Regions from separate parts of the Homo sapiens genome. Here regions 1, 2, 4, 5, 6 and 7 are each reported to be linked to region 3. Evidence: microRNA targets listed by miRTarBase, many of them from high-throughput screens and not tested one by one. Region 3 holds a microRNA gene; each other region holds the end of a gene's coding sequence. Distances are between the middles of the regions.
What was found. The annotated mature microRNA hsa-let-7g-5p reads UGAGGUAGUAGUUUGUACAGUU and lies in region 3 at 2,521-2,542, shown strand. An mRNA with a match to its seed (bases 2 to 7 or 8) in the 3' UTR can be bound and repressed. Matches are read on the target gene's strand: a 7mer-m8 pairs with bases 2 to 8, a 7mer-A1 pairs with bases 2 to 7 and ends in A, and an 8mer does both.

Region 1 (4,066 bases), not on the chromosome of region 3:
GAATAGCACTTTCTCCAACACCACACCATGCCCAGTATACCAGGAACACAGAGGCATAGGTGAAGCGGCACCCCCGCACCCCCGCAGCGCAACGCCCGCCCCTCCCGCCTGCTTCCACGAGGCCCAAGCCGCAGCCACGGCGGGAGTGCCGGGGCCGGGACCAGAGCCGCTGCGCGCCCCCAGGCCGGCTGCGCGGGGCACGGAGCGGGCCGCCCCCCAGCAGCAGGAGCCCACCCGCGGACCTCAGGCGGCGGCTTCACCTCGTCGGGGCAGCTGCCCCCGAGTCCGTAGCGGCTTTTGAGACTCTCCACTACTAAATCCTGCCCCGGTGGCTTGACGACCCTCGGCTCCATAGCACACAGCAACCGTACCAGTCTCCCCGGGAACCGCGTTCATCAAACCCGCGGCGCTACGCGGCCGCAGTGCGTCACGACGTGCCAGACCCCGCCCCCCCGAGGCACGCACGGCGGCAGGGAAAGGGCGGGGCGGGGCGACCCGGAGACTGCAGCCCGGCTTGTCAGCGCGTCCTCCAAGTTTCTCGTGCTAGCACTACACACCTCGTAACTGAGTAGTATTGCATCTCCCCGCGATAGTCCTGCCCCGGCTGCCTGGGTGCCACGGGTTGAGGGGCACCGAGGCCCCGCACCTGCCTGCAGCGCTCCGCTCCAGCTCCATTTAACCTGTTAAGTTTGGTGTGCGTTGCGCTCACCACATAGACCGGTCGTTCCATCAGAAGTGACCTTTGCTAACTGCCATATAAAAGAAAAACCAAGAGTATATCTGAGCCGGGAGTGGTGGCGCGCGTGTAGTCCCGGCTGCTAAGGAGGCTGAGGCGGGAGCATTGCTTTGAGCCTGAGAGTTACATCTATCTTGGGTAACATAGCAAGACTCCCATCTCTTAAAGTTAAAAAAAAAAAAAAAAAGGGAAAGCTGAGCATAGACATTGCAGATTACCTCACTTTCCCTGTGTTCCATATGGGGTATAACAGGGTATTAAAAAGAATAGTTAGAATGTAAGCACCCTGGAAAAAAAACTTTTTTTTTTTGAAAAGAAAAAAGCTTTTGCCAATACCTACAACAGTGCTAACCATAGTACATAGTATACATCAACCTGAAAACCTATGTTAAACAAAACTGACTGAGGGGAACTGTACAACCACTTCATTTTTCTCATTCATAAAATTACAGTGGTGTAATCTTTTACTTTCTAAATTGTGACTGTCAGCTGCATCTCTGGACTAACAACTCCTAAATTCTCTGGATTAAAGTTCCCAAATGCCCAAGTTTTATAAAATCTGTACTTCAGCAGTTATTATCTGAAAATTACTTAGGCCATACTTTTTGCCATAAAGTACCACTTAAGATGTACAAATAATGAATTTTATTCTATCTTTAAGCAGATTTTAATGAGACAACATAAAATCCAGTTTAAAAGGAAAGATACATATTATCGTGGGTTTAGACCACATCAGTGATTAAATAACAAAGAGAAATCAAAGTCCTTTCCTGAAATGTGACACAAAGACTTTCTCATAAATGCCACAAGCCACTTTTAAGCATCTTTGGAATACTAATACGGGAAAAGTCAGTTTACATGTCATTTTGTCAAATTTTTGGTCAAAGTTTTTAAAGCTTTTTAATTTGTAACTTTAGTGCTTTAGGAAAGCATACAAATCTGTAAAAAGTCTCTTAAAAAGCACTTGCATTAACTTAAGAATTTATTCTAAAATCATGACGAAGGCATCAACTGTCTCAGCTGAAAAGTTACAACACACTTTACATCAGTTTATATTACATAGATTTCCAAATAAGCCAATTTGAAATATTTAGTGTAAACATATGTAATCCATGGTTCAAGACTGAACTGATACATTTGGAGTAGGTTTATTTCAAGTATCTGGCTTTGTGGCCGAGTGGAATGGTGATGGTATACCATCACTCATTACTCGCACAACATCCCTCCCCTCTTTTGACTGGTGGTTGAACAGTTACTTGCTTTAGGATACCCAATTTCCAAATCCCCATGTAACAGGGAATAAACCTGTCTTTCCTCACTAAATAAAATGAGGTAATTTCACCCGAAAGAACACAGATGGGTGGAAGACAGTCAATATTCATAATTGCAATATACAAAATTTTGTGTTCTACCTGGATTCTTTGTAGTTCCATATTGAGTAGGCCAATAAGAACATCCTCTTTTCTTTAGCAATTTGCCTAACATTTGATACAAGCCATTTCCAAATACGTTTTTGGTGTGTATCAAACTTGAGAAACTAGGAGCTCTGGAAATTATGCAGCAGTTTGAATTTACTGCCTTTAAATTGTCTTCCTTACTTTAGAATGAACCCGAAGCGTAAGTAATGAATTTTTTGGATGTCAGTGGCTCTTAGGAATTGTCATTTTATTTCTGCTACAAAATTTACCAGAAAAAGGTACTGCAACAATCTTGTATAAAGCAAATCTTTAACGAAAGAACATGGTATAGACTTTCTAAAAATATTCATACTTTATCACAATAACTACAAGGAAAAATTCAATTTCTATCATCAGAACCAAGCTGCAGTTTCTGAGGTAGTAGAGACAGATGACAGAAAAGTTTGAAACAAAACCCCTAAAGGAAATAGTCAACTTGTTTAAAATGTAAAAATTAATCGAATATCTATGAAAGGGCACAGGAAGCTAGATATTTTAAGGAAGGAAGGTACGCTACTTACAAAGTTAACTTGTAACCACACAGGAGGTGTAAAGATTCTAGAGAAGAGCACTTTGGTTAACTCTATACGTTCTGTGGCTCTACCCATTCATAAACGAGTCTCTATGCATAAATGAGTACACCAATAGTTAAGATTACCAAATATATTTCAAACCTAAAATTAAATTATCCAAGTTGTGGTCCCTTTATTCAAATGGTAAGTATATCCATGCAGGAAGTCCAAATATCTTAAAAGGAATTAAAATTAAATTGCATATATCATATTCCTTCAATAGTTTGAGGTCTATTGCTTTTAACAAGATTAGTATTATTCCATTTTAATACGTCAGGAGTACATAAACACAAGTACACCTGAAATACACCAGTGTTTAAACTTTTATTTCACACCATGCAAGGTCAATTATAACACATTAAAAAGTGACAACAGCTATAAGCTGCAATTTTACATTTGTAAATCGGAAACGTCCATTTTCAAAAGCTGAACATAACTATCAAATTGTAATAGCTAAGCTTCAATCCAACTGCTTATACAGATGAAATTTTCTATGAACAACAATGATTTTATATCTGTCCACATTCTGTGATAGTTATTCTTCGACAAACAGACCCTTTGGGAGAACCAAATGATTCAATCTTTTTCACAGTATCCATGCCATCCTTAACAAACCCAAATACTACATGCTTAAAGTCCAAATGTTCTGCTTTCTTCAGTGTTATAACAAATTGAGAATTATTGGTATTCTGGCCTTGATTGGCCATGGATAGTAAACCAGGACCAGTATGTTTCACATCAAAATTTTCATCTTCAAATTTGTCTCCATAAATGGACTGTCCGCCTGTTCCATCATGTTTGGTGATATCTCCTCCCTGAAAAAAAGATTTATAATAAAAAAGTTAAAAATTTTTTTCAATTAATAGGAATCCTGAGTAAAATATTAAAATACACACAGAACTCATCACTACATGTTAAATCCTAAAGCCCAGCTTTCCTGAGTATAGTTTGAAAACTAAGAAATTCATATTGTTGGAAAGAAGATGAAAAATGAAAAGGTTTTTCCCATCCCTTAGTTTCTACTAGATCTCAAGTACTGAAAATTTGATTTTTTTTTTTTTTTTTTTTTTTTTTTTTAATGACAGGCTGTCTCACTCTGTCGCCCAGGATGGAGTGCAGTGGTGCAAACCTAGCTCACTGCAGCCTTGGCCTCCTGGATGCTCCCACCTCAGCTTCCTTGTAGCTGGGATCACAGACGCACACCACCACACCTGGCTAATTTTTGTATTTTTTTGTCCAGACGAGATTTTTGCCATGTTACCCAGGCTGGTCTCAAATTCCGGGGCTCAAGCAATCTGCCT
Region 2 (4,066 bases), not on the chromosome of region 3:
ATTAATAAATGCCACTCATCTTTCTAATCTCTTCTCACATGTGACTGACAATCATCAGTCAGCATTGCTTGTACAAGTTACTGTTCTTTAAAGCTGGGGCAGGTGGGCCAAACGCCAAAATTACCTAAACAGCTTGAACTCCTGGTGTTTTCCTCCAAGCCAGTGAAATGGGAATAAAATCTGCTATCAAGGGCTCCCCCTACAGGCACCAAAAAGCAAAGGCTAAAAATTAAGGTGGGTGCCATTTACGCCTAGTAGAGAATTGTTTCTTCTCTTGAAAAAGTTTCTAAGGCAGTCCTGAAACCACAACTTTGCTTGTTGACACAATCCCTTTTCCAAAACTCTGGCCAAAGAGTCTTAAAAATCTAAAGGACCAAGAATCAAGCAACCTCTTCCTCTTGATGTACTCACCTCCCACTTAATAAAGGACCAAATGTGATTTTGATACAAATAGGACACAAAACGACCCTAGAGCTGTAACACTATTTTTGACAGTCATAATTATGGCACTTTTGAGTTTTCTTGTAGCTCATTTCCATCTCATTTTTAGGATTAGTGTGTATTTGTGTGTGTGTGTACATGCGTGTGTGTACATGCACGCACCAAAACAACTTCAATTCCGGACATAAAATCAATGACAGTTTTAAAACCACTTGATGGAAGGTTTGAGGGAACTTTTATCATTTATTTATTTTGTGCTACAAATCAGGTATATTTAATTCTCTGGGTTCGTGGAATGAGCTTGGATGGTTGCCTGCTCTCAAAGGCTAAAAAAAAAAAAAGCTTGGATGGATAAATAAAGTTTCCAAGACATAAAGAAACAGACAGACAGACAGCTTGTTTCAAATTTGTGCTTCTATTTCTCTCTGAGGGATGGAAGTTCACCAACCAGAGATGCACATTTCCTCACAAAGGACACTTGAAGTTGTGCCCACAGAGGCAAATGCTCATATGGAGACTCAAGAAAGCCTGGGGTTCAGAAGAGGCTTGAGATCATGTTATGAGAAACAGCTGAAGAAAACGGGGGTGCTCAGCCTAGGGAAGACCAAGGGGTGGTATGACAGGCTAACTTGGGAGGGCAACCAGCCTGTGTGGCCTCTCTAGTGGGCAGAGCTGTCGGAGGACAGAGTGGATCTCACGTTCAGGAAGAATGTTTTAATAATGAGCACTGCCCATAAAGAATAAGCTGCACAGGTCAGGGGTATATACCTCATTTAGGCAGGGCCTGGAAAGGCCAGATAGTGGGAACATTGAAGAGACTCAGGAACTGGCAGAAAACTGAGCCAGATTATATTTAACATCCTTTTTATTATTTTTGTGGGTTTTTTTTGAGACAGGGTCTCACTCTGTCGCCCAGGCTGGAGTGCAGTGGCACGATCTCGGCTCACTGCAACCTCTGCCTCCCAGGTTCAAGCGATTCTCCTGCCTTAGCCTCCCGAGTAGCTGGGATTACAGGCATGCGCCATTACCACCCAGCTAATTTTTGTATTTTAAGTAGAGGTAGGGTTTCACCATGTTGGCCAGGCTGATCACGAACTCCTGACGTCAAATGATCCACCCGCCTCCGCCTCCCAGAGTGCTGGGATTACAGGCATGAGCCACTGCGCCCAGCCTAAAATCCTTCTTAGCTCTAAAATCCTGAGACTGTATAATAAAACCCCAAACAATTTAATAGTCCTCTTGTTATAAGGCCGTTGGTTACCATCCCCCAGAGTCATTGTTAACATATTAAACAAAACATTTTGTGCTTCAAGCCCTGATGAAGCTTCAAAATAACTTTTCAAAAGAAAAAACAACAAAATCAAACTAAAGTGTAGGCTCTACCAGTGTCAACTTCCTACCTTTAACGTTTACTATAGTTATGTAAGATGGAACCAACCACTGGAAGAAGTTAAATGAAAAGCTGGGTGAAGGGTACACAGGACCTCTACTATTTCTGCAATTTCCTGTGAACCTCTGATTATTTCAAAATAAAAAGCTTTAAAAAATCAAATTAGCCCAGGCACAGTGGCTCATGCCTGTAATCCCAGCACTTTGGGAGGCTGAGGAGGGAGGGTTGCTTGGTACCAGGAGTTCAAGACCAGCCTGGGCAATGAGGCGAGACCCTTGTCTCTACAAAAAAATTTAAAAATAGTGGGGCATGGTGGCATGAGCCTGTAGACCCAGCTACTCAGGAAGGTGAGGTGGGAGGATCCCTTGAGCCTGGGAGGTTAAGGCTGCAGTGAGCTATGATCAGGCTACTGCACTCCAGCCTGGGCAAAAGCATGAGACTCATCTCTAAAAAAAAAATCAAAAACCAAAAATCAAATTAAAGATACCTCCCCAAGAAGTTCTAAGTAACATCAAAGGCAATTACAAATCAGTTTGGTTTAGGAGTACAGTGTCATCAGCCACAAATGACTCTGCACAAGTATCCACAGGCAGCAGAACTCATTTCAAAACTATTCAAGACTATTTCAATCAGCTCATTTCGATCAGCTATTAAGATTTACAATCATGATTAGGAAAGCATGTATCATGTTGACAGGTGTCTAATTTGGTTATGTTGATCATAAATCCTCAGTTATCTGGGAGCACATCATTAAAATCACCTATAGGCAATACATTCTTACAACTGTTTCCTATGTGGTACTACAGAGGATCCATGTATAATTACTGTATTTCTAAAACTATAATACAATAATTTATTTATGTCTTACTTCTTCCATTAACCATGATTGCAACAAGAACTACATCTTGTCATCTTATTTTATCACCAAAACCTAACCCATAGGTTCTCAATAAATAGTTGCAAAGTGAGTATATTAAAAAACAGTAATTATAGGCCAGGCACGGTGGCTCACACCCGTAATCCCAGCACTTTGGGAGGCTGAGGTGGGTGGATCACGAGGTCAGGAATTCGAGACCAGCCTGACCAACATGGTCTCTACTAAAAATACAAAAATTAGCCAGGCATGGTGGCGCACGCCTGTAATCCCAGCTACTCAGGAGGCTGAGGCAGGAGAATTGCTCGAACCTGGGAGGCAGAGATTGCAGTGAGCCGAGATCACGCCACTGCACTCCAGCCTGGGCGAAAGAGCAAGACTCCATCTCAAAACAAAAACAAAAACAAAAAAACAGTAACAATTTTCTTGAACTTCTGAGGGTGATTTCCTTTTCTGATACAAAGACATCCAAAGAAATCTCAGAGAGTCTCTATTTTAGAATCAGTATTAAATATATATACATATATATATGTGTGTGTGACTATGTCACAAAGTCTCTGAAACACATAAGTTTAATCTCAAAAACTATCTCTACTTGTTTTTTATTTGTTAGTTTCCTGATATAGGTTTGATTTGGAATCAAATAGAAAGGTCAGGCTTTTCCAGACAGACAGGAAAACCAATATGAATTACTGAATAGATCCCCTCAACTAGAAAGTCTCTGCTGGAATGAACTTTGTCTAATTTTATCAAGTGCACCAAGAACAGCTTCTTTCAGAAATTATCGAGACAGCATCACCTTTTGATTCTTTAATATCAACAGATCAAAAAGCATTTGGTGATTTCTCTGTATTTTATATCTCTTTGTTAAGTTTATTAATGTATACGTTTTTCAAATAAACATTTTGAACAGCCCAAATCAATCAAAGCCATGAGATCACAAAGTGTTGCTTCTCGACACAACATTAGCTTGTTCAGAAAATCCAAAAGCCACATCCAAAGATCAATGATGCTACCTTAAAGACATGAGGGAGGCTCCTTAAGACCCTAGAGACACCAAGGACCCCACAGGGCCAGTCATATGAACAGGCTCAGAAGCCGGCTTGATCCTCAGCACCTCTGCAAAGCCATCACCAAACCAGCAAGTGACATGCGCTATGTCTACAGTAAAGTAGAAAAGGCGGTCCTGGCAAAGCTTCCGGCGGTACACAGACCGAGGATCCGCTGACAGCACAGCCTCAATGGCACGCTTTGCTTCCTCTGCTGACTGAAAATATTTAAATGACGCCTGACCAACATCTGCAATGAAAAAAACACAACTTAATGAGCACTATCATGCAGGTTGAATTTAATTACAACAA
Region 3 (4,066 bases):
TTATGTGGAGATCCCAGATTTTGATGATGGAGAATGTTCATGATTTTCTGTCTCTATTTTCTTATCAGACCAAAGAGAACCCTGTACAGTAAGAAATATGGTGTGGACCTCATCAGATACACTCATGCAGCAAACACAGTTGTTTACAGCTCTAACAAAATAGACGGTAAGCAAGCCTTTTTAGGAAGTTAAGGTCATGGTTTCCTTTGTTAAATAGTTCATGGAATCTTTGTGACTACTTCTGCTTTGTGACTACTTTAGTTTAAGTATTTTCATATAATGTTAGTAATGTTAATTGCATTGTTTTGACTGAAGGAATGCTGGAAGCAAGCCATTGGCACTTTTGAAGGACTTGGGACTGAGTATGAAAAGTCTTCAATTCAGAGTGGGGAGTGGAAAAAGGAAACAACTAATTGTGTTTATGATTTGTACTTCCTGACACTTAAAAGAACGCTTTTAAAGCCGGGCGTAGGGGCTCGCGCCTATAATCCCAACCTTTGGGAGGCTGAGGTGGGCGGATCACTGAGGTCAGGAGTTCAAGACCAGCCTGGCCGATATGGTGAAACCTTGTCTCTACTAAAAATACAGAAGTTAGCTGGGCACAGTGGTGCACGCCTATAATCCCAGCTACACAGGAGGCTGAGGCAGGAGAATCTCTTGAACCCGGGAGGCAGAGGTTGTGGTGAGCCAAGATCACGCCATTGCACTCCAGCCTGGGCGACAGAGTGAGACTCCATCTCCAAAAAGAACACTTTTAGAACAAATAAAAGGAAAGAACACTTGATACACAGCAAGTGATAAACAACAGGACTTTTTCTTTTAAAATGATAGAGATTTGAGAAAAGTTTCACAAATGCTTGAACTATGATAGTTTAAGGGAAGTTAGAACAGTTTTGGTGTTTTCCCAACCTTAGTCACTTCTGATTCCAGGAACGTTTTTTGATCTAAAGAGTAGAGTTACTTTTAGAAATTGAACTTGTGAGTTTCTTTCTATAATAAACAATCTCTGTTTTTGCCTGCATGTCTCGAGATAAATCCTAAGTTAACAGATTGTCTTGGTAACTGAACTGTAACACTTATTTTCATGTTAGAATTCTTTAATTTTTTAATTTTGTTTATTTTCTTTTGTTTGTCTGTTTTTATTTTTTGAGACAGAGTCTCACTCTGTTGCCTAGGCTGGAGTGCAGTGGCGCGATCTCAGCTCGCTGCAACCTCCGCCTCCCGGGTTCAAGTAATTCTCCTGCCTCAGCCTCCCAGGTAGCTGGGACTACAGGTGCATGCCACCATGCCTGGCTAATTTTTTGTATTTTTAGTAGAGACAGGGTTTCACCATGTTAGCCAGGATGGGTCTTGATCTCCTGACCTTGTAAGCCACCGTGCCCGGCCTATTCTTTATTCTTTTGAGACAGAGTCCTGCTCTTGTTGCCCAGGCTGGAGTGCAATGGTGCAATCTCGGCTCACTGCAATCTCAGCCTCCTGGGTTCAAGCGATGCTCTTGCCTCAGCCTCCCAAGTAGCTGGTATTACAGGTGCCCACCAACACGCCCGGCTAATTTTTGTATTTTTAGTAGAGTTGGGACTTCACCATGTTAGTCAGGCTGGTCTCGAACTCCTGACCTCAAGTGATCTGCCTGCCTCATCCTCCCAAAGTGCTGGGATTACAGGTGTGAACCACCACGCCCGGCCAGGATTCTGTTTTTAAACTTATTTCAGTGGATTATTGATGATCATCTCACATTTTGCAGTAAGGTTTTTTTTAGGCCGGTGGCTACATAGTGGCTCATGCCTGTAATCCCAGCACTTAGGGAGGCCTAGGAGAGTGGATCACTTGAGCACAGAAGTTCGAGATTAGCCTGGGCAACTTGGGAAAACCCCGTCTCTACAAAAAATACAAAAATTAGCCAGGTGTGATGGGACGCGCCTGTAGTCCCAGCCACTTGTAAGGCTGAGGTGGGAGGATTGCTTGAGCCCTGGAGGTCTAGGGTGATCACACCACTGCACTCCAACCTGGGTGACAGAGCGAGGCTCCATCTCAAAAAAACAAAAAAGATTTTTCTAATGTCATTCCACAAGGATAGCTTATACTGCTATTTTGGCTGTGCCTATCTCAGAGCAGAATGGGCGGAAGTCCTTTTTTCCATTTTTTTTTTTTTTTAATGAGACTCTTCTGCCTGTATTGATTTTTAGTTAAGTATGTCATTTCTACTTTTCATGCCTGTATTTCAGAAGTGGTTTTCTAAGGAAGCAGTGTAGTTAATGATTTTGGAAAAGAATGTAAAACCTTAGGATCCTGAGGAAACATGTCTATGTGATCATCCGAATGACTGGTTTATTTCTTCTGTTGGGATGTTTTTCTGAGTGATTAAATGAGGATTCTCCAAATGTGGTGCAAGATGAGGCAAATGTGTGGCACTTGTAGCTTTGCTGCCAAGCCTCTGCTGTGAGGATGTTCCCTTTCCTGTCTCAAGTGCATCCTGAAGAGTTCCTCCAGCGCTCCGTTTCCTTTTGCCTGATTCCAGGCTGAGGTAGTAGTTTGTACAGTTTGAGGGTCTATGATACCACCCGGTACAGGAGATAACTGTACAGGCCACTGCCTTGCCAGGAACAGCGCGCCAGCTGCCAAGTGGGGCTGAGAGGATGGCGTCACCCTGCTCATCTCTGGGAAACCAGGTAATGGGGAGGAAGTCTTTTTCTTCTTAGGGCAGGTGAGTCATTGTTAGCAGTAGAATAACTAGAAATACTTCGTAGTTGTCATTCAAGAAGTTTGAAGATGTTTTCAAGGAAAATTGTGTAGTGTTCAAGTTATGGAATATACAAATATCCCTATTCCCCTATTCCCCCTCCCAAGTTAAATGCCCTCTTATTAGAAAGCACCCCTGTGAACCCCTGGGATGACTCGATGCTTTCAACCCCTTTATTCCTATGTTCTGTTTGCCTTCAGAATGTTCTTTCTATGGTTTTCTTTCTGCATTTTGGTACCATTTTCCCTTAGCTGTTTCTCAACAATTTTTCCTTATTCCTAGTCTTTTTAAGGGGATAATACTTTTCTATTTTGCAGTTTTATTCTTTATGGCACTTCATTTCTCTACCGCCACCATGTTTTTTGTTTGTTTACTCTTTCAGATAGAATCATTTGGTTAAGAGTGTCTTATTTTTCCACAAGCACAAATCTCTGATTGTTCCTTTCTTTAATATTGTCAAAATCTCACTGCTATTACTCATTGGTATAAGAATTTGATTTTTTTAATGTCTTAAGATCTTTTTAACCCAGATCTTGACATCACTTCTCTGACGTTTTGTTTATTTTCATTGTAATTTGTGTGTCCAATTGAAGAATGTTCAAATGAGTTGAGGGTGGGTCAACATACTGATGGAGAACTCTAGACAAAAATTGCTGCCAGGGTTCAACCTGATCTTCAGTTTAACTGCCATGGCTGCTCACCTCTTTAAGTCTGTTAGCTCAACAGCCACATATTTTTCTTTAAGGTTTGCCATTCTGTGGACACTAGACCAGTATCTAAAATTATTATGTGTGCTTTACTTGTTTTTGTTTTTTGACCAGGGTATATTTGCAGGGTGGGAGTTGCATTGTAATTATGAAGAAACCAAATTGGTAATAAAAGGTCATTTCAAACATTGCTTTCTATGCTGTCAACTTAAGAACTCTGCTTTTGAGTTAGGTGAAATCTACATACCCACTCTTCAGCTGCAGAGTAGAATTATTCACCATTATTTATTCATGCCTTGCTTGGGATATAGAATACAATGGATTATTTGACCTTGTCTTTTTAAGATGAAAATGTAAAGTAAATTTCTTTTAAATAGTATGATATCATCATACCTTGTTTGTCTTTTTACAGATACTATTCGTTACTTGTCCTTGCATGACAACAAATACATCAGATACTTTCCTGGACATAGCAAAAGGTAAGACCCACGTATTATAGAAGCAGATAGTTCTTTTATCCCTGAGGTTACCCAGAGAATAGAAGGCTAGAGAGAGCTTATTAGTGAACTGAAGCTACTTCCTCACTACTGCTTGGCATTCTTCATCTTCTCTTAAATAG
Region 4 (4,066 bases), not on the chromosome of region 3:
GCAAAGTGGGCTGAGGCTTGGCATTCCCCTCGAGGTCATCTGGCCATTCTGAACGCCCCTCCTCAGCCTGCTTCCTCCGGCTGAGCCATGTGCCCCCGGAACCCCTCTGAACTCTGTTGCCGATCCCTCCCTCCATCTGCGCCTTCAGTGAAGCAGTTTCTTAAAGGAGGGGTCCTTGGTACCGTGGAGGGACAGGACATCTCTGGGAATTCGTACCCAGCTGCGTTCGTGCTGAGTTCTTCATGACCCACTCCTTCCAGCGTCAGCTGGTGGATCCAGGGCTGGGTACTGAGCCGTACTGGACCAGTGGGCCCCCTCCCGGGATCGCTGGACTTGGAGCAGAAGAGTCCCTCCAGGGCTGAAGATTGGACACAGAAAACTTGGGAACTGTCAACTGCCCTGTTATTCACCTCGTGAAAAAAGCTGGATTTCTAATGAGAGCGAATGGAGGTGACAATTCCCAGAAACTGGAATTGGGATGGTGAGATTTTAGTTCAGCCGCCGGCGGTCTCATGCGTGGAGGTGATAAAGTTGAGCTTTGAGGTGGTCTTCAGAGGGAGAGGAATACCCTCTGCGGGCAGAGCTTCCTGGGTTCCGGGCCCTTCCGGACGTCAACACAGGTCCAAATGCCCTTGGGCTCCTCCGCACACCCTGGGTGCAAGAATAAATCCTTCTCTCTGCCGCCATTAGCCTGACTGGCTTCGGTTACTTCGCACAAAAAGCCCTTGCCGAGCAAACGTCCCCGGTGCTGCTCCAAAGGAGACCCCTGCCCTCCTGGAAGCTCCTCCCTGAGGCCGGGTATCCACTCGCCGCTCGCAGCCCTCGCTCTAGCTCCAGCTCCTGTTCCTTTTCCTGCCCACCCCGCCCAGTGAGGAGATCAGCACCCCTTGTCTGTCTCTGTGTCTGTCGGGGTTCGTGCCTCACTGTGTCCAAGCCCGGCTTCTATCCCTAGTCCCTTCCTGTTCGCGCCACTCCTGCTTGCTTTCTTCTCCCCTTCCCTCCAGCGGTGGTTCCAAACCTTCTCTTCCATAAGACCCTCCATTCCGTTTCCCAGAGACCCAGGGGTGCCCCTCGCAGGGGCAGAGGCGCAGCCTGTAGTGGATCTCCCTCCGCGCAGGGCGGGCAGTCTAAGGTCATTCCCGGTCACCCTGCCCCCTCGCTCCCATTGGCTCTGGGGAGGGCACGTGACTCAATCCTGGCCAATGGCGTGGCGGGGCCTGTGGCTTGCTGCCGGGCAGGCTTTTCTAGGAGCTTCTGGGGTAACGCCAGAGAAACCTGCTAACACACAAGGTTAGCTGAGAGTGAGCTCAGTGAGCTTTCCCTTTGAAGAAGGCGTGGGTGAAGGGGAGAAGGTTCAGGAGAAATCAAGGGGTCAGGAGTAGTTCACTCAGTCCCCTTTCACTCTGAAGGAGCTCACCTCTCCCCAGTACTGTCCAGTGGAAAGGCCACTCAAAGCAACTGAGAGAGACCTGCTTGTGTGAAGAGGTAGAGGTTTATTGAAATATAAACATTCGAGAACATGTAAGATAGAAAATAACCACAACATATAGACACTTGCTGCAGGAGGACATCTGAGGTATTTACTCACTGCCTAGGCTACCCATGTGCTATCACATTTTTCCTGGTTAGAATACATATAAGATGGAGAGCAGGAGGGGACAGAGCTGCCCTGGCTGATGGCACCTTCAGGGGAAGCTCTGCTTGGGCCAAGGCCCCACTCGTGGGGGCACCTGCTGGCACCCCTCATCGGGCTCTGGGTGACACCCTGCTGTTGTCCTTGAGGGCAGTGAGGGTTCACTCCAACGGTGTGGCCAGGCGAGCTGCCTGGGGAAAGGGAGAGGATCCAATGACCGGAAAGACACAGTGTGCTTTCCCTGCATCCTCTGGGTGGGAAGAGTCCATCCTTTGTGACCAAACCCCTGAGAAAGACATACTGGCCAAATGTCTGAGACACCTTCAAATGGGCCCAGTGCCAGCCAACTGGGCTCCTCACTGGCACCACGTCCCAGATGCCCTTCTCTGCCCACACCCTGCAGGCTGAGGCCAGAGGAGGTCAGCCCTCGGGAGATGGGGTATGTGTGTGTGTGTGTGTATGTGTGTGGGAGTGGGGGTGAGTGTGTGTGGAGGGCTGAGAGAAGACGCAGTTGAGCAGAGCTGCAGCTTACCGGGCTGAGGTATCTGTTTGTGCTCAAGCTTTTGATTCCCTTTCCTCTCCTACACAGGACTGAATGCGAGCCACGCTGCCACACACACCCACGCCACGCGCGGTGTCTCCCACTGCCACAGCCCCATGTCACAGTGGTGGTGTTCTGCTGAACATTCCAGGGCTTCCTCGACTGAGGTGAGCCGCAAGCGAATCAATTTTCTTTACAGCACAGGAGCTGCCTGCTCCCGCGCAGGGTCCAGGAGGAGCTGTGGAGTTATTCATCTCCTCATACCCTGGGGCGGCTCAACCTCTGGCAAGGCCAGCGAGGACCCCAGCCTGCCTGTGCCCTGAGCTGGGAATGCTGAGTGATGGGGAGGTGTCCTCTGCCTCCCTGGTCAGCTGGGGGTGGGGGTGTGGCAGAAAACGGTCTTCAGAACTGGTACAGTTTCAGGGCCCGACCCGGTGTGAGAGCGGGCCTCTCCACTCCACCTCCCCGCCCCCGCGATCCCTGAGTCGTCTCCCCTGCATGCCTCCACCCACCTCCTCACTGGGCTTGAGGGAAGGGCCAGAGGGGCCGGGTTACCCAATCACTTGCTTGGCTTTGGGGGTGATCTGTTTTCATTTCTTTGGTGCTACGATAAAAATTTTAAAATAAAAAAAAAACAAAAGTCAGCAAAACACATATAAAAAAGATTTCAGAGATGCAAATACTTCCTGAAGACTCAAACATCAACAATTACAAATCTGAGGTATTTCAATGAACCTGACATCGGCACGTGTGGGGATGGTGAGGCCAAGATGGCCCCATAAGAAATAGAAGAGGGCTGAGCTGAAGAAGGCTGAAGAAGGCTGGGGAGGACTGGGGAGGGCTGAAGAGGGCTGGGGAAAGGATGAGTGGGCTGTTTTTGGGAAAGCAGGCCAATAAGGGCAAGTGGGGAGCATGAGGTTTGGCGGGGGCGGTCAGAGAATGGTCCGTGTGAAGCAGGTGCCAGGGCTGGGCAGCCCCGAGGCTCTGCCTTCCCATCAGCAGATGCCCTGTGGGCCCTGGCCCTGAACTGCCCTCACAGCCTCTTCCTTCAGACTATTAGAAGGGGGATCTGGGGCCCTGAGGACTGATTCAAGACTTGTGTTTGAGGGACCCGTACCCCAGGAACCTAACAGTAGGCAAAGTGGGCTGGAAGGGCCCCATCCCATGCTCTGCAGAGAAGGGCATGAAGGCATGCTCTTGGCTCCTGGCAGCCCCACATGGGACTTAAAAACAGGGGAAGAGACTAGTGGCCCTGGGGTCATGGCAGAAGGCAGGGTCAGGGAAATAAATTAAAAGGGGAGGGAAATGGAGGGCCTCCAGCCCTGCGTCGGCTGACAGATTGTCGATACACTGTGCCCTGAGCTGGGAGGTGGCTGGGGAACCCTGGAGGAAGCTGGACACCCACAGACCCCCACCCAGTTCTCCAGGACAATCCCTGATTGGACAACGCTGTCTGTCCTGCCCCTCTAGCCTCTCCCTGCCCCCAGAGTACAGCAGGACCTGAATGGAGCCTGGACAGACGGACACGTCCAAACTCTCAATGTCTGGCCAAATGGTGCTCGTCGACGTGGGCTCTGTGAGATGAGGTAAATTCTGTGCATCAACTTCCTTCACTCTCGACAGGAGAGTGGCAAGTGGGAAGCTGGGTCCTGCCCATCAGAGGGACCAGCTGGTGGAGGGCTCTGCGCTGGGGGTGCCCCGGGATGAGGTAGGACTTGGTGAACAGTGAGAGCTGCTGCTGCTGCTGGCGCTGCTGCCGAGGCTCTGGGGAGCAGACCCCGTGATGAGGTGGACCACAGGCTTCTGGGCAAACAGCACACCTTGGTGGGTGGAAGAGAAGCAAGTGTGGGCAGAGGAAGAGCGAAGGGGAGGGCCAGCTCCTTTCAGTAAGT
Region 5 (4,065 bases), 130 Mb from region 3:
AAAATCTGTTGGCTCTTCTCTTTCTGTAGGCAGAGATAAACTGCTGCCTTCCTTGGGCAGGACTACGCCTGTCATGGGAGGAAGGAAGGGCAAGAAAGGACAGATCTGGTTGCAAATGTTACAGTCCTTCCCAGCCTCCAGCCAGAAGCCACGATGTGGCAGGATGAAGATCTGACCTCTCTCACATCATAGTCACGGCCTGAAGTCATTAAGTGACTGAATACAGGCACTTCTAATTTTTGAACCAGCACTCAAGGCTTCACTTCTACCTTTGCAAAAGCTTTATCTTCCAAAAATACCCTAAACTGCTACCAATTTAGAGTAAATAATAATAATGATAAAATAATAATAATAATAGCTACCATTTATTGAGCACCTACTCTACTGTGTGCCAGGCACTGTGCTAGGCACTTTTCGTACAATATCTAATTTAAATCCTCACAACAACCCTGTGAGGTAGGTATTATTATCATCATTTTACATACGAGGGAACTGAGGCTCAGAGAGGTTAAATAACTCTATCACACAACCAAAAATAGTAGAGCTGGAATTCAAACCCAAAACCACCTAACTCCAAATCCCATGCTCCAATGAATTAAAGTAGAGAGGGGAGAGGGAGGGCCAAATTCAAGACAGAGTGTTGGAGTGAAATGGATATGATATGCTGATAAGATATGGGAAGAAGGAATGTAAGCTCATAAATGTTTCTAGCTGGTGAGCCTATGTAGATTGTGATGAAGTAACCAGGAGAGGAATTCAGGAGGAACATACTTGGTTGGGCAGATGAGTTGAGTCTATACGGAACTGTCCATAGAGATGTCCAGTAGGTAATACCAATACAGATCTAAAGTCTGGGGGAAGTTGGGGGTTGGAGCTATGTATTTGGGAATCACCAGCATATCAGCAGCAATTGAGGACATCAGGATGAATGACTCCATTTTGGGAGTAAATAGAAAGGAAAGAGAAGTGAATCAAAGATGGAACGATGGAAGCACTGATACTGACAGGCATGAGCAATCGTTGAGAAATTCTCAAGAGAGTCGGACAAGACAGAGTCAGAGAGAGAAGTACATGAAACAGCCCTGTAGTGGTGGCTAGAAGCCATGGACTGGGTTGGGAACAATTCTAGAGCTCCCAGAAGGCAGGCAAGATTGAGTCACACTTCCAACAAAGCCCTCTGCACACCAAAACCCCAGGAAGTATTGTTTTTCTTTGTTAGTTTGCTTTTGAGACAGAATCTCACTCTGTCACCCAGGCTGGAGTGCGATCTCAACTCACTGCAACCTCCGCTTGCTTCCTGGATTCAAGCGATTCTTGTGCCTCAGCCTCCTGAGTAGCTGAGATTACAGGCAGGTGCCAAAACACCCATCTAATTTTTGTATTTTTAGTAGAGACAGGGTTTTGCTATGTTGGCCAGGCTGGTCTCGAACTCCCGACCTCAAGTGATCCACCTGTCTCAGCCTCCCAAAGTGCTGGGATTACAGACGTGAGCCACCGCACCCGTCCAAGGAAGTATTGTTAATTGAAATAAATGCCAAAATGTTCCTACCTTGGTTTACCCCAAAACCTGGAGCTAAGAACTTCATCTCACTTTTGACACCCCAGCCCCCAAAATATGGAAGCCCAGGAGAGCCAGGAGAATTTATAGCAGAGGCTTAAAGAGAAAGTTATGATTTGTTTAAAGTAGAGAATAAGGTGAAAAATAAAACCTGGTACTCTGTCTGGAAGTCCTGGAAGTCTCCTTGCCCAACCTCAACTGGCCTGTGGGCTCCTGTGTCCTTGCTCTGGGATGCCATGGTGAATGTGAAAACAGGGGAGGTTGTGTGTGGGGGTGGGAATGGCCTGTCGGTTGCAAGGCGAGTCCTTTGCTGAGCCCAGCCTGAGACCCAGCTTATGGGCTTTATCCAGGTGAGAAAATGCTGGGGACATGTGTGCGAGGTTTAAGGTCTACCAGGAAGGGGAGAAGGGTGTCAGGGGACCAGCCCCACAACCTAGGAGAGGATTAGGAGGGTCCAGCCCTTTGGGCAGGGACCAGCCCTGAGGCTTAAATGAACTTGCATAGGCACCTGTGTATGCATCTCTGTGCATGTATGCATACATGAGTGAGAGAGAAAGATAAAGAGAGCTAAAGAGGCCCCCCTCCCCCCGCCGCAGGCTGCCACACGTGGTGCGATCCGATTCTCTCTGGAAAGGAGGAGAGTCTCTCATGCATGGGTGAAGTTGGGCCCTCCCCAGAAGCCTAGTGACTCATTATGTTAACGTGTGGGTGTGGGGGCTGGACATCCTTGGGAAGCCCTGAGGGGCTGCTGAAGCAGGGTTCCTGGTCTCCTCGGAGGCTGGGCCTCCCCTCGCTGGGGGCTCACAGAAAGTCAAACAGCCCGAAATTCTTGGCTGCTCCAGGCCCAGGGTAAATTGGGGGAGGAAAAAAGAAAGAAAAGAAATGTTTCAGGCCTGGAGGTGAGATGAGCCTGCTGGTTAGTAGGGTTAGGGGTCTGAAGGAACCAGCACGCAGGGCAGGCATGGGGCAGGGGTAGAGCAGAGATGCTCCCTGGAAGCCACCAGCTGCTCAGGCAACTGAGGGGGCCCTCTGGGCCTCTGATCTAGGCACAGGCAGGGATGGCATGGATGGCTATTGGAGGCGACTACAGCTTTAGGTTGCAGGACTGAGGCAGCAGGCAGGGGGATGGTTAGTAGGGGCAGATGAAGCAAATATATTTTGGTTTCAGTAATGTGGGGTAAAGTCAAGAGGTTTGCACACGTGCCTGATGGGGTGGGGTTAATAGAGGGATGATGTAGCTGAATAAATGGTGAAAGGGAGCTAAAGGGGAAACGAGAGAATGAGGGAGTGAGCGTGCCACCAAGGTCATTGCTGGGGTCAACTCCCAAAATGGGGGTTGCAGAGGGGAGTAAGGGGTAGCACCAACAAGTCTGGTCCCAGAGACAAAAGGGGTCCTGGGAAGTCCTGCGCAGGGATTAGTGGGCAGAGGAAACGAACTGGGGCCAGAGGCAGGTTAGGGGGCTGCAGAGCCAATCGGTAGGTGCACCCCACCCTCGCAGCACCCTGCGAGCAGTTAGCGCACCTGGATTTAGTTCCTTTTATTTCCCTTTCAGGTACCAGACAAAGTAAAAAAGACGGACGGATGGAGAGAGGAACGCAGCCGGCTGGGGTGGGAGCGGAATGGAGCTGGGGGAGGGGCCCTGCTCACATCACATCCACAAAGAACTCACTGGGGTTTCCCATGGCCATGCGGAAGGACTGTCTGCTGGCGGTCAGTTCCGGGGGCACTGAGGCCAGGTCGCGGCCCGGAGGGGCTCCTGGGGGCCCCATGGCCGCGGGCGGCGGGGGCATCATCAGCATGGGGGGGCCGTAGAGAGGGGGCACTCCGGGAGGACCGTAGCTCGGGTGTGTGTGGTGGCTGCGAAGGCTGCTGGCCAGGGAATGGTGGCTGCGGTGGCTGTGCTCGCTGGCCGCCGGCCCTGAGCGCTCGCTGGGCGCCCGCTCCCGCGGCCCCCGCAGGCTGCTGCGTGTGGTGTGGTCCGATTCGCTGCCGCTGCCCCCGGACTTGGAGTCCCCGGCCTTCGGGTCCTTCTCCTTCCTCCGATCGCTGCCGCTACGGTTGGAGCCACTGCTCCGACTGCCTGTAGGAGGCAAACAGGGCCGGGGTGGGGCAGGCTGAGCGGGCGGGGGAAGCCTGGGGCCCACCTATAGCCTTCCTCCACGGCCCCTCTACCTTACCTTCGCTGTGCTGACTGCTGGCGCTGCCCCCGCCGTAGCTGTAGCCCAGCTCCGGGAAGCCCGGGTGCGGGTTGTATGGGTGCGGGGGTGGCGGGTACTGGTACGGGAAAGCCATGGGCCAAGGGGCGGCCCCCGGGTGCGGCAAAGGGGCCAGTGTGTCCTGGTCAGAGGCGCCACTGGAGCCATCGTGATCGTGGAGAGACAGGTTGGCCATGTCTGTGAAGGGGAGGGCCGGATGGAGCTAGGTCTTTCCGGAGAGAGGTCCCTAGCCTAGGTCAGGTGGGCTCTGGATGAGAGAGACCGTGGTAGTTTCTGGCTAGAATGAGAGG
Region 6 (4,066 bases), not on the chromosome of region 3:
TTTCTCCCCAACTACTGCTACAATGGGTCCACTAACCGGTAAGGGAGTCCCTGTGCAGAGGGGGCCGGGTGGGGGTTGGGGGAGTGGCCAGCTGCCTCCTCCAAACTAGGCCCAGTACATGTGTGAGTGGTTCCTGCAACAGGTGTCTCTCAGAGCCCCTCCTGGGCACAGGCTTTGTGCTGTCTCACTTGCCTAAGGTCATAGAGCTGGTTGACAGTTGAATGTGGTTAACAATTAGGTCTTCTTTCATTGAAGAGCTCTTTCTACTGCTACTCTGAAGTTGCCCATTGGGGTGTTTTCCTGCTCCAGTAAAACATGGGGCATGCCATGGTGAGCAGATACCTTCCTGCCTCTTGAGTCTTCAGACTAGAGGAGGATGTGGGTGATCAATCACATGACAAATGTACCATTACAAACAGTGAATAAGGAGATGAAGGAAAGCCCACAGGGCCATGACAGTGGTAACAGTACCACCTATTCCAGTCCAAAAAGTCATGCAAACCTCAACGGAGGCTTCCTCTTTGAGGAAGTAATGCTGGAGTTAAGATGCAAAGGATGACTAGGAATAAATAAGGCAAAAAGGCAGGAGAAGAATATTCCAGACAAGTTTCTAAGGGTTTCTCCAAGAAGTTGATGAGGGTAAAACTAGTCGGGTGGGAAATGGTGCTGTGAAAGATAACACAGGAACAGATTGTGCAGTACTCTACAGGCCAGGGCAGGATCGTGCATTTTTATTAACCCTGAAAGAGTTTGAGGAAAGGAGATGACATGATCAGATTGTATGTTTGTAAGGATATCCACGTATCTGAAAGCATGCCTGCAAAACAGCATACATTTGCAGAGCACACATACGCATGACAAAGTGGAACTTGCCTCCTGCAAGGTGCACACGGCCCGGGGCCAGGCACTGAGGTAGAGACAAGACCTAATTTCTTTATCCCCACAAAGTTTCATAACCCAGTGGAAGAGTAAGGCATATATATTCACATACAAAATAAGTATGTAAGGATGCAAAAAAAATGTATTCATCTGCAGATCTTCTAGGTATCTCCAAGCCTTGGCTCAAGGCCAGTATTGAATGAGTGTGTGTTGAATGAATGAAAGGGTATGGGAGATATCCACAAATGCACCTGGATCCACACACTAAGTGAGATAGATTTCCAGTTCTATAAAGATTTAGGAGCTTTAACACTCTTGAGCAGGGAGCAGCAAACTGTGGCTCACAGGCCACATCTAGTTGCTGACTGTTTTTGTAAAGCCCATGAGCTGAGAATAGTATTCACACTTTTGGGTGGTTGAGGGGAAAAAATCCAAAGAAGAATAATATTTGGTGACAAGTGAAAATGATTTGTATTTGATAAAGTTTTATTGGAACTCGATCATGCTCATTTGTTTATTATTGTCTGTGGGTGCTTCCATGCTGCAACAGCAGAGTTGAGTACTTGCAACAGAGACCGTCTGGCTTCCAAAGCTAAAAATATTTGCTGCCTGGCTCTTTTGAGAAAGAGTTTGCTGAACTCTGCTCTTGAGAAACCAAACTGGAGGTAGAGGAGTGGAGCCCTAGAGAAAGTCCACTCTTAGTTTCTTGCCTAGTGTCATTCGGAGCAGCCACAAGCCCCTGGTTGAGCCCAGGAATCTAGACTGAATTTTTCCCATCTATAGAAAGGAGACGGCAGTTGAATGGGAAGATGTCAGAAGAGTTTAGTACCTTTATAGTCAACCACCTAACAAACAGTGCACTTGTACCAGTGCAAACCTTCACCTGGCCAGGAAGCACTCCTGTTATCTGTGTCCCATGGAGAATAATATTAGGACCATATTAACTCTTTCCCATCCCTATGCTTCTACTAGTTTTGTGCGGACTGCCATTCCTTTCACCCAAGAACCACAACGAGACAAACCTGCCAACGTCCAGCCTTATTACCTCTATGGATCCAAGGTAAGTAGTCCTGCCCTACCCTGCCTAGAAGAGGGTTGGTGAGAAAAAGCAAATAGAAAAGTGTCTCTTAATTAGAAGAGTAAGAAGGTGCAGAGATAAAGGCAGCAATGAGGTCAGGCACAGTGGCTCATACCTTTAATCCCAGCACTTCAGGAGACCGAGACCAGTGGATACTTCAGGCCAGGAATTTGAGAACAGCCTGGACAACATAGCGAGACCCTGTCTCTACCAAAAAAATAAAAAATAAAAAATTAGCTAGACATGGCGGCATGCACCAGTAGCTACTTGGAAGGCTAAGGCAGGGGGATCCTTTGAGCCCAGGAGTGTTATGCTGCAGTGAGCATGATTGTACCACTTCGCTCCAGCCTGGCTGACAGGGCGAGACTCTTATCTCTAAAGAGAAAGGAAAAAGGCAGCAATAAGATCCAGGCAGAAACAGCTGTGAGTATATGAATCTTTATTTGTTCACAAGTAGCAGGAATGGGGGCAAAAGTCTGGGTGCCGAGCAGGGAATGCATGAGGTAGGCAAGGGAATAGGGATGTGGGGCTTCTCGTCTTGGCTTCTCAGCTCCTGCTGTTTCTTAGTTGATTCACTGCAGTGTCGTCCTGTGATTCTGGGATTTTGTGCTCTATAGATATAAGAGGGTACTGGGAAGGTCTTGGATGATGCTTGGAGAGTACAGGCGTCTTCTCCAGAACAGCCTGCCTAGTCTGGTCAAGACAATTTTCTCAAATCAAGGGAAGCTGACTGACAGCATTTGAGGTGGTTCACAGACATGGCATTTAACTAACACTGACTCGCAAAGTAAAAACAGCACTTCCCTTTTCGATTCTCTTTCAAACCTTATGCTATATCAAGGAGAAAGACAAATATTGGTGCTAATATGTCTTTATTACCTCTCCAACACTGGATCTCCCTTTTTATCAAAGACAAGCAAGCAGGCATTAAGCTCAGAATCACTGGCAGGCAATAGAAGCTAAGTCAGATTATTTAATATTATCTTGTTTTCATGATGTTTATTCTTATGTCTCTTCCCTTCTGTTTGCAGCAGGAGGGTGCTGGTTTTTCACTTATGGAGTAATATAAGGCTGTCTTTGAAAATAAGTTTACGCTTAAAAAATGAGTCAATTTAAAGGAAAGTATTATTAATAATAGTGAAGATAATCCATGGTTTTAAAAAATAGAGAGCGGTGGTATGTGATTGCCTAAAAGTTGGAAAACACTCCAGAGCAAGGGTTCTCACAAATTATTTCCAAATAATCCCAAATTATTTCCAAATAATCCCCTCAAGGGCAGAGGAAACTGGACATCTACCTTTGCCCAAAAGTGTACCTCTGAGAGCCTACTTGTAACTCAAGTGTTTCCTTCAAGTGCTGTGTTTTATTTGTCATGCAAATTTTTGCTTTCTACTTTATAACATATCCATGTTTGTTTTAATGTTAAAACAATGCTTTCAATTCTTAACTGTGTCCTCCGAGTGGACGCTGCTGCTGAGATGCCTCGTTTGTGCCTTGGCATACCCTGGGGGATACATTTTCCAGCTTGAGAAGCTTTGTCATGGGGCATTCATCCAACCCAGGTGACCTACAATAGCAGTGACGTTTGATGGGAGAGAAATGGGTAGTCTATAGACACATTTGTACAAACGACCTACTGTGTGGAAAGCTTTAGGCTACATGATGCGGGCGCTCTCCTCCCCACTCTCATTCCCCACAATGAGGCAGTATAGCGGGTGGGTCACCACCCCCCCTCTGTAAGGCACCCGCATCAGGGGCATCCTGGTTGGCTTCGGGATCCAGTTCAGCTCCATCTCTGGAGTTCTTGCGTGGCATTTCCACCAGGGGGAGCCCCTGCAGGTCTTCCTCCCTCTGACCAAGATCCGGGGCCTCCTCTGGCCATCTCACCAACCCATTGGCCTCCTCCATGTGGCCAGCCCTGTAAGACCATCGCGGCTCATGGCAACGGACACACCAGAACTGGAGGCAGATGAAGGCCAAGACGGCTGTGAAGCAGGCCAGCAGAATGGCCATCAGCACCCAAAGGGAGATCTGGGGGTCTACCAGGGAGCTTCCAGGAGCCAGCGGACTCTTATCCAGGGTGTGGAACATGGTGCAGTAGTGCCTGTA
Region 7 (4,066 bases), not on the chromosome of region 3:
CCCTCCTCTTTGGCTTCCATGACACTTGGCTATCTCAGTCGCCTCCTATTTCTCTGGTCACTACTACTGTCTCCTTTGCAGGCTCTCTGCTCTGTTGGGCCCTTAAAAACAAGTAATAATAGTAGCAGCAACTGATACATATCAGTGATTTACTCTGCCCTGGGCACTACATAAGCATCAATCCTCTTAATCCTCAAAGTAATCCTAGATCCGCTCTCCAACCACCAGCTAGAGTGATTTTTCTAAAAACCGTATCTCATCATTTTCTTGCTTAGAACCTTCTAATGGCTTTCCTCTGCCCACGGCTTTTTTTTTTTTTTTTTTGAGATGGAGTCTCGCTCTGTCACCCAGGCTGGAGTGCAGTCGCACAATCTCGGTTCACTGCAAGCTCCGCCTCCTGGTTTCATGCCATTCTCCTGCCTGAGCCTCCCGAGTAGCTGGGACTACAGGCGCCCGCAACCACGCCCGGCTAATTTTTTGTATTTTTAGTAGAGACGGGGTTTCACCGTGTTAGCCAGGACGGTCTCAATCTCCTGACGTCGTGATCCTCCCGTCTCGGCCTCCCAAAGTGCTGGGATTACAGGCGTGAGCCACCGCGCCCGGCCGCCCACAGCTTTTAAAGTCTTTCAAGATCTGGTCCCTGTCTACCTCTCCAGCCTGATTTCTCATCACTGCCTCTTCCTTTATAACCTGCCTGCTTTTAGCTTCTCCAAGAACTTCAGGTCTTTGCATGTGCTGTTCCTACTGCCTGAAACACTTTTCCTCCACCTTTCAGCCTAGAACCAATTCCTCTGGGGGAAGGAGATTGGTTATGTGATTGACGCTGAAATCAGTCTGCCAGGTTCAACTCCCAGCTCTGCCACATCCTAGCAATAAAACCTTGGGCAAGCTATTAAACTCTCTGGCACTGGCTGGACATAGCGGCTCATGCCTGTAATTGGGAAGCTGAGGAAGGTGGATCACTTGCGGTCAGAATTTTGAGACCAGCCTGGCCAACATGGCAAAACCCTGTCTCTACTAAAAATACAAAAATGGCCGGGCATGGTGGCTCACACCTGTAATCCCAGTACTTTGGAAGGCCAAGGTGGGCAGATCACTTGAGGTCAGGAGTTCATGACCAGCCTGGCCAACATGGTAAAACCCCATCTCTACTAAAAACACAAAAATTAGCCAGGTGTGGTGGCATGCGCCTGTAATCCCAGCTACTCAGGAGGCTAAGACAGGAGAATTGCTTGTACCCGGGAGGCAGAGGTTGCAGTGAGCCAGAGGTTGCAATGAGCTGAGATTGCACCACTGCACTCTAGCCTAGGTGACAGAGCGAGACTCCAGCTCAAAAAAAAAATTTAAGAAAGAAATAAAATAAAAATAAAAATACAAAAATGAGCCAGGCATGGTGGTGTGTGCCTGTAATCCCAGCTACAGGGAGGCTAAGGCAGGAAAACTGCTTGAACCCGGGAGGCAGAGGCTGCAGTGAGCCGAGATTGCGTCACTGCACTCCAGCCTGAGTGACAGAGCAAGACTCTGTCTCAAAAAAAAAAAAAAAAAAAAAAAGTAGATAAGGCCTGTTGTGAAAATTAACCAGTATAGTAAGGTGCCTTGCAATGTTACATGTGTCACCTGAGTATTTTCTGACCCTAGACCATGTTAGGACTCCTTGCCAAGTATTTCCCTAAACTTTATAATACCATAAACTCCCAACCTCACTCTTGAAATGTTTGTCCATCTGCCCACCTTGCAGGCTGTCAGCTCTGTGAAAGCAGGGGCTTTCTGACTTTGATCCTGCTCGTATTCCTAGTGCCTGGCATACAGTAGGTACTCACGTTTGTTAAGTCATTAACTAGAAATCCAACACCTCCTAGATATCATATCCTGGTGATATATGCTCTCCAGCAAACAGCTAGTTTGAACAAGGAAGGATGGAAGATAAAGTTTTTAACAACAAGGCATATAGGGCAGACTCACACTAAGGCTAAAAGCACTCACAAAGGCAACTTAAATCATTAAGAAAATATCTTTATTTATTCTGAAATGTTCCAATAATCAATGTAAAAACTGTGGTAGTGGCTCTTTCACAACTTTACAAATTATAGAAAAATGATTTTTCCTCTTCTTTACAGAAATGTCACTCCCAAATCGTACCGGGCCCTATTATGGCTAAAACCCAGCAGGAAGAAGGGAGCAGAGAATACAGCAAGCAGGGCTCCGGCTCTCTGGGTGGCCAGAAGGCTTTTCCTACACATTAAAGCCCAGGCTGAGTCTCAAAGACCTGTGACCCCTCTGAAGGAGGCTCCATCCACATGGATCTGTGGCACACTGGGGCAGGCCTCTGTCTTGAAGGCCAGTAGGCCACAGAAGACCTGAAAGCATGGCACTCGTGGTTGCAGGCCACAGTCAAGGCAGCTTTGTGAGAATGAGAACAGGAGGCGAGCCTATAGCTCAAATCCCTTTCTCTAAAACACAGCCAGAAAAGAGGCTGTGGACACTGGCCAAACAGTGCACTAGGTTTAGAAATTTCCCCTTTTACTCAGCAAAGACTAATTTGTTAAACAGCTATTAAAAAAAAATCAGAAAACAAACATTTGGTTCCATTTCAGCTGTAATCAGCAGTTGGTAATTTTTGGAAAAAGAGCAGTTTTCTCATCTTGAGTTGCTCATTAAGTCTGTATTTTTTATCAGGCCCCTGACTCCTTTCTTTCTCATCCATGGTTTTTTGGGGAGGGGGGCAAGTACAGCTATAGGAGAAGGCTGTTTGTTGATTTGAGAAAACTGTTAAAATGTTTTGCACTCACATACAAAGGCTGATGGAATTCAAAAATGATCCCACTGATTTTTATGAGAAACATGACTGTTCCTCTTGGGTGTCTCAAGTCAAAACAAGGCAACCGCCTAGTGATTTATAGTTCCCACATTTTCCGCCTTCCAGAAGGCATTAGAGAAAGGGCCAACCTCTGCCAGGAGAGATTGTAAACACACCACTGACAGCTTGGACACTTTGTTTTTAAATGCAGCAGGGCTTTTTCCTTTGGCCCTGGCTGAAAAGCCAACTCCCTAGGACAGTTTAAGAAGGAGCAGATGGAAGGACTCCCCTAAAACCTAAGAGTGAGGGACTAGTAGTCCCCGTTGACTGGAGTATGGCTGGGAACATCATCAAAGGCAATGGATACATTTAGGCCATATGAAAATTGTCCTGTGGTCCCCCAACTGGCCCCTAGGCTCAACCTGGCTGGACATGAGGCATAGGAGGTACAGAACAAGTTACCATAAGGCACATAGTTGAGGTAGCCCCCACACCAGGCCCAGAAAGATTATCTTTTCGCACGATTCCAAAAGTGTTGGAAAGCAGAGGAGTTGATGACACTCACTATGAGCAGCAGCAGCAGATACAGGGATATCATGACGGTAAACCAATGGCTGGAAAACCAGGAGAGCTGGCTCGAAGCCCTGCTTAAGAGGGAAAAAAGAGTGGTGTTGGCAAAAAGAGAAAAACATTTTTTTTAAGTGTGTACAACAAGTCTGGCTCTAAGAAGACAAAATGATGAATTTCATCCTTTGCCTGAGCCATGAAATGAAGCTTCGTGCTTCCTTGCTCAAGAAACCTGGGGCTGTTTGCCCAGGCACTGACACGCCTTTCAACAGGATATTTTCTAAATGCGCAAAGACAGCTATGCAATGAGCTCATCCTGATCTTCCCTTTTGTAGCTCCTCTTTTACCATTTACAACCCATCTTGGTATCTATAACAATGACCTAGCTCAGGGTGTCTGCCCAGATGGTGGCAGGTGGCAGGTAATTTAGCTGAAGTCTTTTCACTTTTAGACACATGCAGATATAAATCCAAGCTGGGGAAATCCTCTTTGGCCCACTAGGAGATGATCTAAACCACCCAAGTGTGCACTAAAGAGATGCTCCAGGGAGAAGTGGGAAAGGAATGGAATTTTCAAGGATAAAAAGTTAGATGATTTTAAACCAAAGCATAATGTCACCTGGACCCAGGCACCCTATATACATTTCCCAAATTTGGACAGGGGTCGGGAGGAGACTTTACTGGTTTATGAAGTCTGGAAGCA

Region 1: miRTarBase lists RANBP2 as a target of hsa-let-7g-5p. Seed matches in the 3' UTR shown: 8mer at 2,568-2,575 and 7mer-A1 at 2,065-2,071.
Region 2: miRTarBase lists TRMO as a target of hsa-let-7g-5p. The part of its 3' UTR that is shown has no 7-base or 8-base seed match.
Region 4: the mRNA of ARID3B is a reported target of hsa-let-7g-5p. Seed matches in the 3' UTR shown: 7mer-A1 at 3,757-3,763, 7mer-A1 at 2,892-2,898, 7mer-A1 at 2,171-2,177, 7mer-A1 at 1,573-1,579 and 7mer-m8 at 1,483-1,489.
Region 5: the mRNA of DVL3 is a reported target of hsa-let-7g-5p. Seed matches in the 3' UTR shown: 8mer at 453-460.
Region 6: the mRNA of FNDC9 is a reported target of hsa-let-7g-5p. Seed matches in the 3' UTR shown: 8mer at 2,457-2,464.
Region 7: miRTarBase lists PARP16 as a target of hsa-let-7g-5p. Seed matches in the 3' UTR shown: 8mer at 3,275-3,282.

What each region holds. Positions count from the first base shown.
Region 1 is chr2:108,783,110-108,787,175 of GRCh38, reverse strand. It overlaps RANBP2 (RAN binding protein 2), which reads right to left. Exons shown (of 29, transcript NM_006267.5): 29 at 1,367-3,580. The coding sequence ends at 3,275. CCDC138 (coiled-coil domain containing 138) reads right to left here and starts at 405. Exons shown (of 15, transcript NM_144978.3): 1 at 261-405. The coding sequence starts at 353. RefSeq lists a silencer at 7-596.
Region 2 is chr9:97,900,989-97,905,054 of GRCh38, forward strand. TRMO (tRNA methyltransferase O) reads right to left here. Exons shown (of 5, transcript NM_016481.5): 5 at 3,501-4,004. The coding sequence ends at 3,745. Among named protein-coding and RNA genes, the nearest start is that of TRMO, 19 kb to the right of the region's middle.
Region 3 is chr3:52,266,812-52,270,877 of GRCh38, reverse strand. MIRLET7G (microRNA let-7g) reads left to right here and starts at 2,517; the gene lies at 2,517-2,600. It overlaps WDR82 (WD repeat domain 82), which reads left to right. Exons shown (of 9, transcript NM_025222.4): 2 at 69-166; 3 at 3,860-3,926.
Region 4 is chr15:74,595,539-74,599,604 of GRCh38, reverse strand. It overlaps ARID3B (AT-rich interaction domain 3B), which reads right to left. Exons shown (of 9, transcript NM_006465.4): 9 at 1,474-3,994. The coding sequence ends at 3,831. CLK3-AS1 (CLK3 antisense RNA 1) reads left to right here. Exons shown (of 9, transcript XR_007064715.1): 9 at 1-686. Among named protein-coding and RNA genes, the nearest start is that of CLK3-AS1, 18 kb to the left of the region's middle. RefSeq lists enhancers at 1,023-1,317, 592-1,480, 2,096-2,596.
Region 5 is chr3:184,169,893-184,173,957 of GRCh38, reverse strand. DVL3 (dishevelled segment polarity protein 3) reads right to left here. Exons shown (of 15, transcript NM_004423.4): 14 at 3,737-3,952; 15 at 344-3,639. The coding sequence ends at 3,203. Among named protein-coding and RNA genes, the nearest start is that of AP2M1, 2.9 kb to the left of the region's middle. RefSeq lists an enhancer at 2,123-2,417.
Region 6 is chr5:157,339,219-157,343,284 of GRCh38, forward strand. It overlaps FNDC9 (fibronectin type III domain containing 9), which reads right to left. Exons shown (of 2, transcript NM_001001343.4): 2 at 2,380-4,066. The coding sequence ends at 3,644. It overlaps CYFIP2 (cytoplasmic FMR1 interacting protein 2), which reads left to right. Exons shown (of 31, transcript NM_001037333.3): 22 at 1-38; 23 at 1,852-1,939. Among named protein-coding and RNA genes, the nearest start is that of FNDC9, 4.4 kb to the right of the region's middle.
Region 7 is chr15:65,256,102-65,260,167 of GRCh38, forward strand. PARP16 (poly(ADP-ribose) polymerase family member 16) reads right to left here. Exons shown (of 6, transcript NM_001316943.2): 6 at 1,998-3,441. The coding sequence ends at 3,306. Among named protein-coding and RNA genes, the nearest start is that of SNORA24B, 27 kb to the right of the region's middle.